3 linked regions of the Homo sapiens genome follow. The protein of the gene in region 3 interacts with the protein of the main gene of each other region in a pairwise test. Each region holds a gene or a part of one and is shown on either strand. Other genes may lie near its edges. The genes, in order: ZNF280C, H4C13 and CBX5.

Region 1 (3,753 bases), on a different chromosome or scaffold from region 3:
AATCCTGTAATTATCAGTTTATTAACAAAGCATACATATACTTTTGAAGTTCATCAGATACTTTAAACTTAAATATTTCACCTCTATAGGAAACCAGTGCATACCTTGGATTGACTTCTTTAGTTTTTTTTTTTTTTTTTTTTTTTGAGACGGAGTCTGGCTCTGTTGTCCAGGCTGGAGTGCAGTGGCACAATCTTGGCTCACTGCAAGCTCCGCCTCCCGGGTTCATGCCATTCTCCTGCCTCAGCCTTCCAAGTAGCTGGGACTACAGGCGCCTGCCACCACGCCTGGCTAATTTTTTTGTATTTTTTAGTAGACAGGGTTTCACTGTGTTAGCCAGGATGGTCTCAATCTCCTGACCTCGTGATCCACCCGCCTCGGCCTCCCAAAGTGCTGGGATTATAGGCGTAAGCCACCGTGCCTGGCTACTTCTCTAGTTTTAACAACCTGTTGTGGATTTACACCTAGCCAGAACTCCTGCACATCAAAAATTATCTTCATAAAACTGGAATCATGTGCTTTCCCCATGAAATTTAGGGGGAAAGTCTCTTTTATGATGCCATTTCCCTAATACTGAGGCTCAAATTTGTAGTTATCTCTGACTTTCTTCTTACGTAAAACATTCAATATTTCAAACGTTTTATGATGTTAACGATTTATCGAGTACTTACTCTATGCCAGTCTGAGGGTTTTAGACATTATTGCCTGATCTAAATCTTATGGCAACCCAAAGAGATAGGTGCTACAATTATTACCTTTTTACAGAGGACAGAATTAGTTTCAGTAATCTACTGAGGCCAGGATCAGGTTGGAAATGGAGCCCTTTGATTCTGAAGCCCATGCTCTTAAATATGATGTGATACCACCCCACCACCTCAGCCCAGGGCATTATTAAGTAAGTCTTAACCACTACAATAGCCTTAACCAGCCTATGTGTCTCATGCAGCTACAACTCATCCTGTATACTCCTCCAAAGTGATCTTCCTTCAGCACCCTTGATTCTACTCAAAACATCAATGGCTTCCCCAATGTCTTCCAAATGAAAATTAAGCCCAAACTCCCCAGCCTTGTTTTCAAGGATTCAACAATCTGCATCTAAGTTCAAAACTATCTCCCCAGACTGATCTTTTTTTATTTTTGGAATGGAGTCCCACTCTGTCACCCAGGCTGGAGTGCAGTGGCGCGATCTCGGCTCACTGTAACCTCCACCTCCCGGGTTCAAGTGATTCTCTTGCCTCAGCCTCTGAGTAGCTGCGATTACAGGCGCACACCACCATGCCCGGCTAATTTTTTTTGCATTTTTAGTAGAGATGGGGTTTTGCCATGTTGGCCAGGTTGGTCTTAAACTCCTGACCTCAGGTGATCCACCCACCTCAGCTGCCCAAAGTGCTGGGATTACAGGCATGAGTCACCGTGCCCGGCCAACTTTGATCTTAATATAATACTATGCTATATGAACTTTGTGCTTCATCCAAATTTTACTCCTAGTTATTCATTGTCATTCCGGAGAATGTGTATAGTTTCTGCATTTTCCTTTCTGAACTTTTATTCATGTTATTTCTTCCAACTAGAATGCCCTTGTGCCTCTTCTTGTAAGTAGAAACCTTTCTCCCCTTTGAAATCTGTATCTCTCACTGCACTTACTAGAAACCTCTTTGAATTACTGTAGTTATTTATGTTCACACCTTATATCCATACCCCTTTAATAAATTGTACATTCCTTGAAGGTTGGTACAAGCCTTCTTCATCACGGTCATCTGTATAGGACTTCCTACGCTGTATTATACATGATAGGTACACAATAAATAGCTAAAGAATATTTCATTTTAACAAAATAGTAATTATGAAAAAATTGTTTATAGAAATACAAAATGCTATGTCCATACACAGATTTTTTTAAAAAAATTTTTTGAGACCGAGTCTCACTGTGGCCCATGCTGGGGTATAGTGGCGCAATCTTGGCTCACTGCAACCTCCGCCTTCCAGGTTCAAGCAATTCTCGTGCCTCAGCCTCCTGAGTAGCTGGGATGACAGGCATGCGCCACCACGCCCGGCGAATTTTTGTATTTTTAGTAGAGACGGGGTTTCACCATGTTGGCCAGGCTGGTCCTGAACTCCTGGCCTCAAGTGATCCACCCGCCTTGGCCTCCCAAAGTGCTGGGATTACAGGTGTGAGCCACTGCACCCGACCCATACACAGAATTTGATCAATTTTCTATTCAGATGTGAGATCCACTCAAGTTGAAAAAAAAGCACCTCAGATCTTTCAAATCATACAGTTAATTTAAAAACCAAGCATACAATTGAGCTTGACCATAATGTGGTAAAAATCAAATCGAAGTCTCATCTTTAGAATTAAATCTCTTTTCATTCTTATAAGCATTTTTCAGTAAAGGTAACACCTAATATATTTTACTCTTTTCTAATTCCTCGAATTCAATGCTTTAAAAATAGCATAATTTTTTTTTTTTTTTTTAGATGGAGTTTTGCTCTTTTGCACAGGCTGGAGTTAAGTGGTGCAATCTCGGCTCACTGCAACCTCTGCCCTCCGGGTTCAAGCGATTCTCCTGCCTCAGCCTCCCAAGTAGCTGGGATTACAGGTGCCTGCCACCATGCCCGGCTAATTTTGGTATTTTTAGTAGAGACAGGGTTTCGCCATGTTGGCCAGGCTGATCTCGAACTCCTGACCTCAGGTGATCCACCCGCCTCAGCCTCCCAAAGTGCTAGGATTACAGGTGTGAACCACTGCACTTGGCCTAACATGAGTATGTTTTAAAAATACAATAAAAATTTCCTCTATGAGCTGTTGGTCCAACATTATCCACATAATTCATTTTCAACATATACATTAACTTATTCAACAAATATTTACCAAGTGCCTACTATGTGCCAGGTACTATGTGCCTGGCAAACATCTGTCAACATGAGCAAAATAATTAACAAAGGAAGATGGAGTCAAAAGATAACAAAATAATGTAAAAAAACAGATGTTTAGTTGATTCTGAGCTAAATGTGTGTGGTGTAACCAATGGTAATTATCAATGCCTTTAGAAATATTCATCAATTTTTTTTCTGTACAGTAAACAACTTATATACTTTAATTCTAAAAACATTAACAATTATGAAGGCTATATATTGATTTCAAGTATTATGGTATTTTCATAAACTTACTTCTATTCAGATATGGTTGGAGAACCTTATTTTTGTTATTTTACAAACGCAAATACATGAAGGTTTCATCTTAATGCTTGGCACTACAGAGTTTAGTCAGAGATGATAGGCTATCCCTCCAACTTTGGTCCAAGGACATAATAAACAGAACTCTATCATTTCCAAAGCAGGCACTCCAACATCAAGTTTTAAAAAGTTACTGCAATATTTCAATTGAAAGAAAAAAAAAAGATCAATGATTACCTGAGAGTTCCTGAATGCTTCTTGAAAATACAAAACCGTTTACCTGGATGGTTGCTATGAGAGCTGGAGAAACACGAGACAAACAAGATTTTATTAATTTTATTATACAACACCATATTAATTTTCTGACCACATTTCAAGCCAATGCTTAATTTCTTAGTTTTGAATAAAAGATCATGATCTAAATAATAAAATTCTGTTGGTTAAAGCTATAATCTGAATTTCTGTGTCACCCCAAAATTCATGTTAAAATCTTAACCCCCAAAGTGATGGCATTAAGAGGTGGGGCCTTTGGGAGGTGATTAGGTCATGAGGGCAGAGCCCTTATGAGATTAGTGC
Region 2 (3,266 bases), on a different chromosome or scaffold from region 3:
AAGAAAAACAAAAACGGAAACAAAAAAAAATCCCCCAAAAGTCTAGGATTTTTCATGCATCAAAATCCTGTTTAAATATAAGCTTGATAAATCTAAACTTGCCTTGCACTATTTTAATTACGAGGTGTCATTACTGATTTGACAAAAAGTTAAAGAACGTAAAGGAAAAGTGAAACTAGAGTAAATTTGTAAATGGAGGCATTGAAGGGGATATGAAATTCGAGCGTTGTGGTATGCCAGTATTTCTCAAATTTAAACGTACTTAATGTTTTAGAAGTTGGCCGACTTTTTCTGTAAAGGGCGATATTAAAACATTTTGGGCGTTGCGGACCACAGTGTCATAGTTACACAGCCCTCGCATTGGTAGCGGTAAAGTAATCGATACAAGATAAATGAGACCGGCTGTTTCATTATGACTTTTGCAAAAACCAGAGAGGCGTTATAGATTTGGCCGTGTATCAGAGAAGCCGGCACTTTTAACCACTAAGTAATGCTGAAAGGGGCACCGAACCTCAAACTTCAGCGACTGCTTATGTGGAATCGCTAATTTGCCAAAACTGCCATACGTTTAAGTGTTCTTAAGAAATTAACTATCTTTAGTCTACAGCTCTTTCACAGACTTCATGGGTGGCCCTGAGAAGGGCCTTTGAGGAACCGTGTAAGTAAGTAAAACACTCAGCCGCCAAAGCCATACAGGGTGCGGCCCTGGCGCTTGAGCGCGTAAACCACGTCCATGGCTGTGACTGTCTTGCGTTTGGCGTGCTCCGTGTAGGTAACTGCATCGCGGATTACATTCTCCAAAAACACTTTAAGAACTCCGCGTGTCTCCTCGTATATAAGGCCTGAGATGCGCTTAACGCCTCCACGCCGTGCCAGGCGTCGGATGGCGGGCTTGGTGATGCCCTGAATGTTGTCGCGCAGAACTTTGCGGTGGCGCTTAGCGCCTCCTTTGCCCAGACCCTTCCCGCCTTTGCCGCGCCCAGACATGTCTTGTACTAAACAAAATGCAACACGGCAAGCCTCGCAGCAGTACTTTATATAGTAATAAATCGGACCTGATTGGGAACTCTCCACACCAGCTGCATCCGGTCGGCCGATTCACAGACCTTGCGCCCTGCCCACGACTTCAGGAAAAAATGGAAAAGGGGGTACTTAAACTCCAGTTTCTAAAAATGATGCCCAGTTAAAAATTACTCAGCTCATCTTGCCCTTCTACAGTGTTTTAGGCTGACCACCGCTGCATTCCATTGTCTGGGTCTTTGCAGCCTGTTTTTCCTGTCACCTCTTAGCATCGATTGTTCTAGTGCTTTGTGGCTGCTGGAATCAAATGGCGCCATCTCTAGAGGGGTAATCACAGTCGTTTCGGGCATTTGTGAAATAGCGTGTAGAAACTGCTTCCGTACAAACTCGAAGTGATCAGCCTATGGAGTGGCTGACTGCAAAAGACGACGCCTGATGATAGCTCCAAGGTGGGATTCCTCACCTTTCTCAAATTTGGTTCTCTATTCTTTTCCTTATATTTTACTCTTTCTGTAGCTGTCCTTTCTGTTCCTTTCTCTCCCTCGCCAACCACATTTTTGGGGCAAGAACTTTCTATTTTTTTTTCCTCATTCCACCTAGAAACACTTCAGGAAGCTGTTTGAGAAAGAAAGGTGGCTTTTACCCTGTATTTCCTTAGAATTGTGAAGGTGCCGCTTGAGCTCCCTCATGTTCCTCTTTTCTGTTGAACTAGGAAATCAGCTGTGCCCAGAAACCCTGTCTTTTACATTTACAAATAAAGTGCAGGAGGAAAAGACCGAGGATGACTTTATTCCAAGAAAAAGAGTTTCAAATGGCCGGACGCGGTGGCTCACGCCTGTAATCCCAGCCAGAAGGGAGGCCGATGCATGTGGATCACAAGGTCAGGAGTTCGAGACCAGCCTGGCTAAGATGGCGAAACCCCTTCTCTACTAAAAATAAAGAAAATTGGCCTGGCGTGGTGGAGGGCGCCCATAATCCCAGCTACTCAGGAGGTTGAGGCAAGAAAATCGCTTGAACGCAGAAGGCGGAGGTTGCAGTGAGCCAAGATCGAGCCCCTGCACTCCATGCACTCCAGCCTGGGCAACAAAGTAAGAGTCCGTCTCAAAAAAAAGTTTCAAATAAATGTTGTGTGACCTTCCTGACCTAGGCTGGCTCTGCCTTGCCCTGCCTTCCAGCTATCAGATTTCGTTTCTCAGTAATGTTTACCTTTTATATTTCAAATGTGTATGATTATTTACCTCTTTAGCAAATATCTAATTTTATTCTAAAAATCAGTCTCTGCAAGTACATTATGAACTACTCTATGATTACTGTATGTGCAAAACATTACATACTCATGTTGTAATAGTTAATCAGTTTCTCACTGAGCTAGGCTGGCCTCTTTTTCCTTTTTTTTTTTTTTTTTTTTTTTTTTTTGACAGAGTTTTGGTCTTGTCACCCCAGGCTGGAGTGCAATGGTGAGTTCTCTGCTCACTGCAATCTCCCCCTCACGGGTTCAAGCGATTCTCCGCCTCCCGGATTCAAGCGATTCTTCAGCCTTAGCCTCCTAAGTAGCTGGGATTAAAGGCACCCGCCACTACGCTCGGCTAATTTTTGTATTTTTAGTAGAGACGGGGTTTTGCCGTTTTGGCCAGGCTGGTCTCGAACTCCTGACCTCACGTGATCCGCCCACTTCGGCCTCCCAAAGTGCTGGGATTACAGGCGCGAGCCACTGCTCCCGGCCTTATTTTTTGTATTTGTAGTAGAGACGGGGTTTCAGCGTGTTAGCCTGGATGGTCCCTATCTCCTGACCTGGTGATCCACCCGCCTCGGCCACCCAAAGTGGTGGGATTACAAGCGTGAGCCATCGCGCCCGGCGATTAACCTCTTTTTTGTTATTAGTTCAGGCTGTGACCCTTATGGTCTCACAACTTCTGTACCCTACAGCATTGACATCTGTGTTTTTCAGAGGTGTAAATTTTTTTTTTTTTTTTTTTTTTTTTTTTTTGAGGCAGGCTCTTGGTCTGTCACCAAGGCTGGAGTGCGATCTTCCCACCTCAGCCTCCCCAGATCCTGGGACTACAGGTGTGAGCCACCACCCATTCCCGGCTAATTTTTGTACTTCTTGTAGAGATGGGGTTCCACCATGTTGTCCAGGCTGGTCTCAAACCCCTGGGCTCAAGCAATCCACCTACCTCGGCCTTCCGACGTGCTGGGATTACAGGTGTGAGCCACCACATCCGGTCCCTACTAAATTTTCTATGTTA
Region 3 (3,753 bases):
CAATTGTTTACAGCAGCATTTTAATAGCCAAAAACAGAAAACAAATTCAAATGTTCATCAATGGATGGTGACATGGAAAAACAAAATGTGGTATATCCATACAAAGGAATATTATCCAACAACAATAAGCAAAATATTAAAACATGCTACAACTTGGAAGAACCCCAAAAACATTATACTAAGTGAAAGAAATAAGACACAAGATACTACATACTAATTCCATTTACATGAAATGTCTGGGAAAGACAAATTTATAGAGACAGAAAGCAGATCAGCCGGGCACGGTGGCTCACACCTGTAATCCCAGCACTCTGGGAGGCCGAGGCAGGCAGATCACTTGAGGTCAGGAGTTTGAGACCAGCCTGGCCAACACAGTGAAACCGTGTCTCTACTAAAATTACAAAAATTAGCTTGGTGTGGTGGTACACATCTGTAGTCCCAGCTACTCGGGAGGCTGAGGCAGGAGAATTGCTTGAGCCCGGGAAGGGGAGGTTGCAGTGAGCTGAGATTGTGCCACTCCTGCCTGGGCGAAAAAGCCAGACTCTGTCTCAAAAAAAAAAAAAAAAAAAAAAGCAGATCAGTGAATGCCTGGGGCTGAGGGAGGGAGTTGTAATTAACTACAAATGGGAATCAAGAGAATTTTGGGGGACACAAAAATGTTCTGAAACTGGATCATAGTGGTGGTTGCATAGCTCTATAAATTTATTCCAAATCATTTAATTGGAGCCAGGCACAGTGGCTAACGCCTGTAATCCCAGCACTTTGAGAGGCACTCAGGAGTTCGAGACCAGCCTGGTCAATATTGCAAAACCCTGTCTCCACTAAAAATACAAAAATTAGCTGGGCTTGGTGGTGCACACCTGCAGTCCCAGCTACGCAGGAGGCTAGGGCATGAGAACTGCTTGAATCTGGGAGGCTGCGGTTGTAGTGAGCCAAGACTGCACCACTGCATTCCAGTCTGGGCAACAGACTGAGACTCTATCTCAAAAAAAAACAATAATAATAATTTAATTGGGCTGGGCGCAGTGACTCACGCCTGTAATCTCAGCACTTTGGGAGGCTAAGGTGAGCAGATCACTTGAGCCCAACAGTTCAAAGACCAGCCTAAGCAACATAGCAAGACTCCTGTCTCCACAGAAGATTTAAAAATTACTCAGGCATGGTGGCTTGCACCTGTAGTCCTAGCTACTTGGGAGGCTGAAATGAGAGGATCCCTTGAGCCCAGAAGGTTGAGGCTGCAGTGAACCGTGATTGCACCACTGCACTCCCACCTGGGTAACAGAGTGAGATACCATCTCAAAAAAAAAAAAAAAAAAAAAAATCACTGAATTGTACAATTTTTTTTTTTTTTGAGATGGAGTCTCACTCTGTCTTGCAGGCTGGAGTGCAGTGGTGTGATATCGGCTCGCTGCAACCTGTCTCCTGGGTTCAAGCCATTCTTCGGCCTCAGCCTCCCCGGTAACTAGGATTACAGGCATGCGCCACCAATTTTTGTATTTTTAGTAGAGACGGGGTTTCACCATGTTGGCCAGGCTGGTCTCGAACTCCTGACCTCAAGTGATCCGCCTGCTTCGGCCACTCAAAGTGCTGGAATTATGGATGTGAGCCACCGCATCTAGCCTGAATTGTACAATTTCAATGGGTGAATGTTATGGTGTTTAAATAATACCTCGATAAAGCTATTTAAAAACCCAAAATTCAGCCAGGCACGGTGGCTCATGCGTGTAATCCCAGTACTTTGGGAGGCTGAAGCAGTCGGGCATGGTGGCACCTGCCTGTAATCCTAGCTACTCAGGAGGCTGAGGAGGGAGGATCACTTGAACCCGGGAGGCAGGAGGTTGTGGTGAGCTGAGTTCGAGCTATTGCACTCCAGCCTGGGCAACAAGAGTGAAACTCCATCTCAAAAAAAAAAAAAAAAAAAAAAGGTTTATTTAGATGGGAATGATTTGAACACATGCCATAATAACCTGACTCAAGTAGAAAGCAGAAAGACGGAAAAATCTGAGCTATTTACTCTTGACCTAAACAACTTTCTACAAAAGGAACATAATATTGAGACAAAATTTATTTCTAAATCATTTGAGCTAATATGGGAAAGTTTCTCCTTTATATCCCTTCTCTCAGCAGAAAAAAAATTCCTCGGCCGGGCACGGTGGCTCAAGTCTCTAATCCCAGCACTTTGGGAAGCAGAAGCAGGTGGATCACCTGAGGTCAGGAGGTCGAGACCATCCTGGCCAACACAGTGAAACCCCATCTCTAATAAAAATACAAAATTTAGAAGGGCGTGGTGGCGGGCGCCTGTAATCCCATCTACTCAGGAGGCTGAGGCAGGAGAATCGTTTGAACCCGGGAGAAGGAGGTTGCAGTGAGCCAAGATCACGCCATTGCACACCAGCCTGGGCAATAAGAGCAAAACTCTTGTCTCAAAAAAAGAAAAGAAGTCAAGAAAAAAAATTCCTCACACAGTAACTTTCCCCAAAACCCACAGACCATATAGTTTACCATCCCAGAGGAAATTAACATACCAATATCAAAAGGTGTACCAAGACTATTACACAAGCCGAATACACTTGGGGGTTGGGAAGAATCTGTTGATAGCTAGAAAAGCCAGTCCTATAATGCGATTATCCCTTTTCCTAACACTTTGGTACTGCTGCTTCTACTTCAGTTTCCACCCAAAAGACAACATAGTATGATTTAAAAAGAGCCTGGGTTGGCCAGGAATAGTGATTCACACCTATAATCCCAGCACTTCAAGAGGCCAAGGCAGGCAGATCGCTTGAACCCAAGAGAGCGAGACCAGCCTGGGTAACACAGTGAGACCCTGTCTCTATTTTGAAGATAAAAAAGCAGGGCGTGGTGGCTCACGCCTGTAATCCCAACACTTTGGGAGGCTGAGGTGGGCGAATCACAAGGTCAGGAGTTCGAGACCAGCCTGGCCAACATGGTGAAATGCTGTCTCTACTAAAAATACAAAAAGTTAGCTGGGCGTGGTGGCAGGCACCTGTAATCCCAGCTACTCGGGAGGCTGAGGCAGGAGAATCGCTTGAACCCGGGAGGCGGAGGTTGCAGTGAGCTGAGATCGCGCCACTGAGCTCCAGCGTGGGCGATAGTGAGAGACTCTGTCTCAAAAAAAAAAAAAAAAAAAGATAAAAATATGTAAAAATTTAAATTAAAAAAAGAATTAAAGTTTTGAAAGAGGCAAGGGTCTTGCTATGTTAACCAGACAGGAGTGCAGTGGCTATTCACAGGTACGATCCTACTAATGCTCAAAATGGGAGTTCTGACCTGCTCTGGTTCACTCCTACTTAGGCAACCTGGTGGTCCCTCACTCCTGGGAGGTCACTATATTGATGCCAAACTTAATGCAGACACCTGATCGGTTTAGTGCACTACAGCCCAAAACTCCTGGACTCAAGCAATCCTCCCACTTCAACCTCCCTAGTAGCTGGGACCACGGGTACATACCACCATGCCTGGACTCTAAATGCTTTTGTGAGAATCGAAGAGAGCACAAGAGGTAGAATTTGATCACTGTCTAGCACAAAGTAGGCATTTAGTTATAGACAATGCTGATTTGTTCCAGTCTTTTATGAAATCCAGGGCATTTCTGAAAAAGGACCAATGTTTACTTTGTCTACCCCAAACCTTACCTTTTCCCCTTTCATCTATGGTAAGGTACCAGTAGCTCAATGACAGAGAAAGAGTTTCAAGTATCTTTCAAACACCCAAATATTTCCAGTGGAAATGGGC

What was found.
Region 1: the proteins of CBX5 (region 3) and ZNF280C interact in binary tests that used the Homo sapiens proteins (3 or more experiments, as listed by UniProt).
Region 2: the proteins of CBX5 (region 3) and H4C13 interact in binary tests that used the Homo sapiens proteins (3 or more experiments, as listed by UniProt).

What each region holds. Positions count from the first base shown.
Region 1 is NC_000023.11:130,206,239-130,209,991, forward strand, and holds part of ZNF280C (zinc finger protein 280C), read right to left. Parts: intron 3,478-3,753; coding exon 3,415-3,477; intron 1-3,414. UniProt on the Homo sapiens protein: May function as a transcription factor.
Region 2 is NC_000006.12:27,872,524-27,875,789, forward strand, and holds H4C13 (histone H4), read right to left. Parts: upstream 1,012-3,266; 5' UTR 988-1,011; coding exon 676-987; 3' UTR 625-675; downstream 1-624. UniProt on the Homo sapiens protein: Core component of nucleosome. Nucleosomes wrap and compact DNA into chromatin, limiting DNA accessibility to the cellular machineries which require DNA as a template.
Region 3 is NC_000012.12:54,252,430-54,256,182, forward strand, and holds part of CBX5 (chromobox protein homolog 5), read right to left. Parts: intron 1-3,753. UniProt on the Homo sapiens protein: Component of heterochromatin that recognizes and binds histone H3 tails methylated at 'Lys-9' (H3K9me), leading to epigenetic repression. In contrast, it is excluded from chromatin when 'Tyr-41' of histone H3 is phosphorylated (H3Y41ph).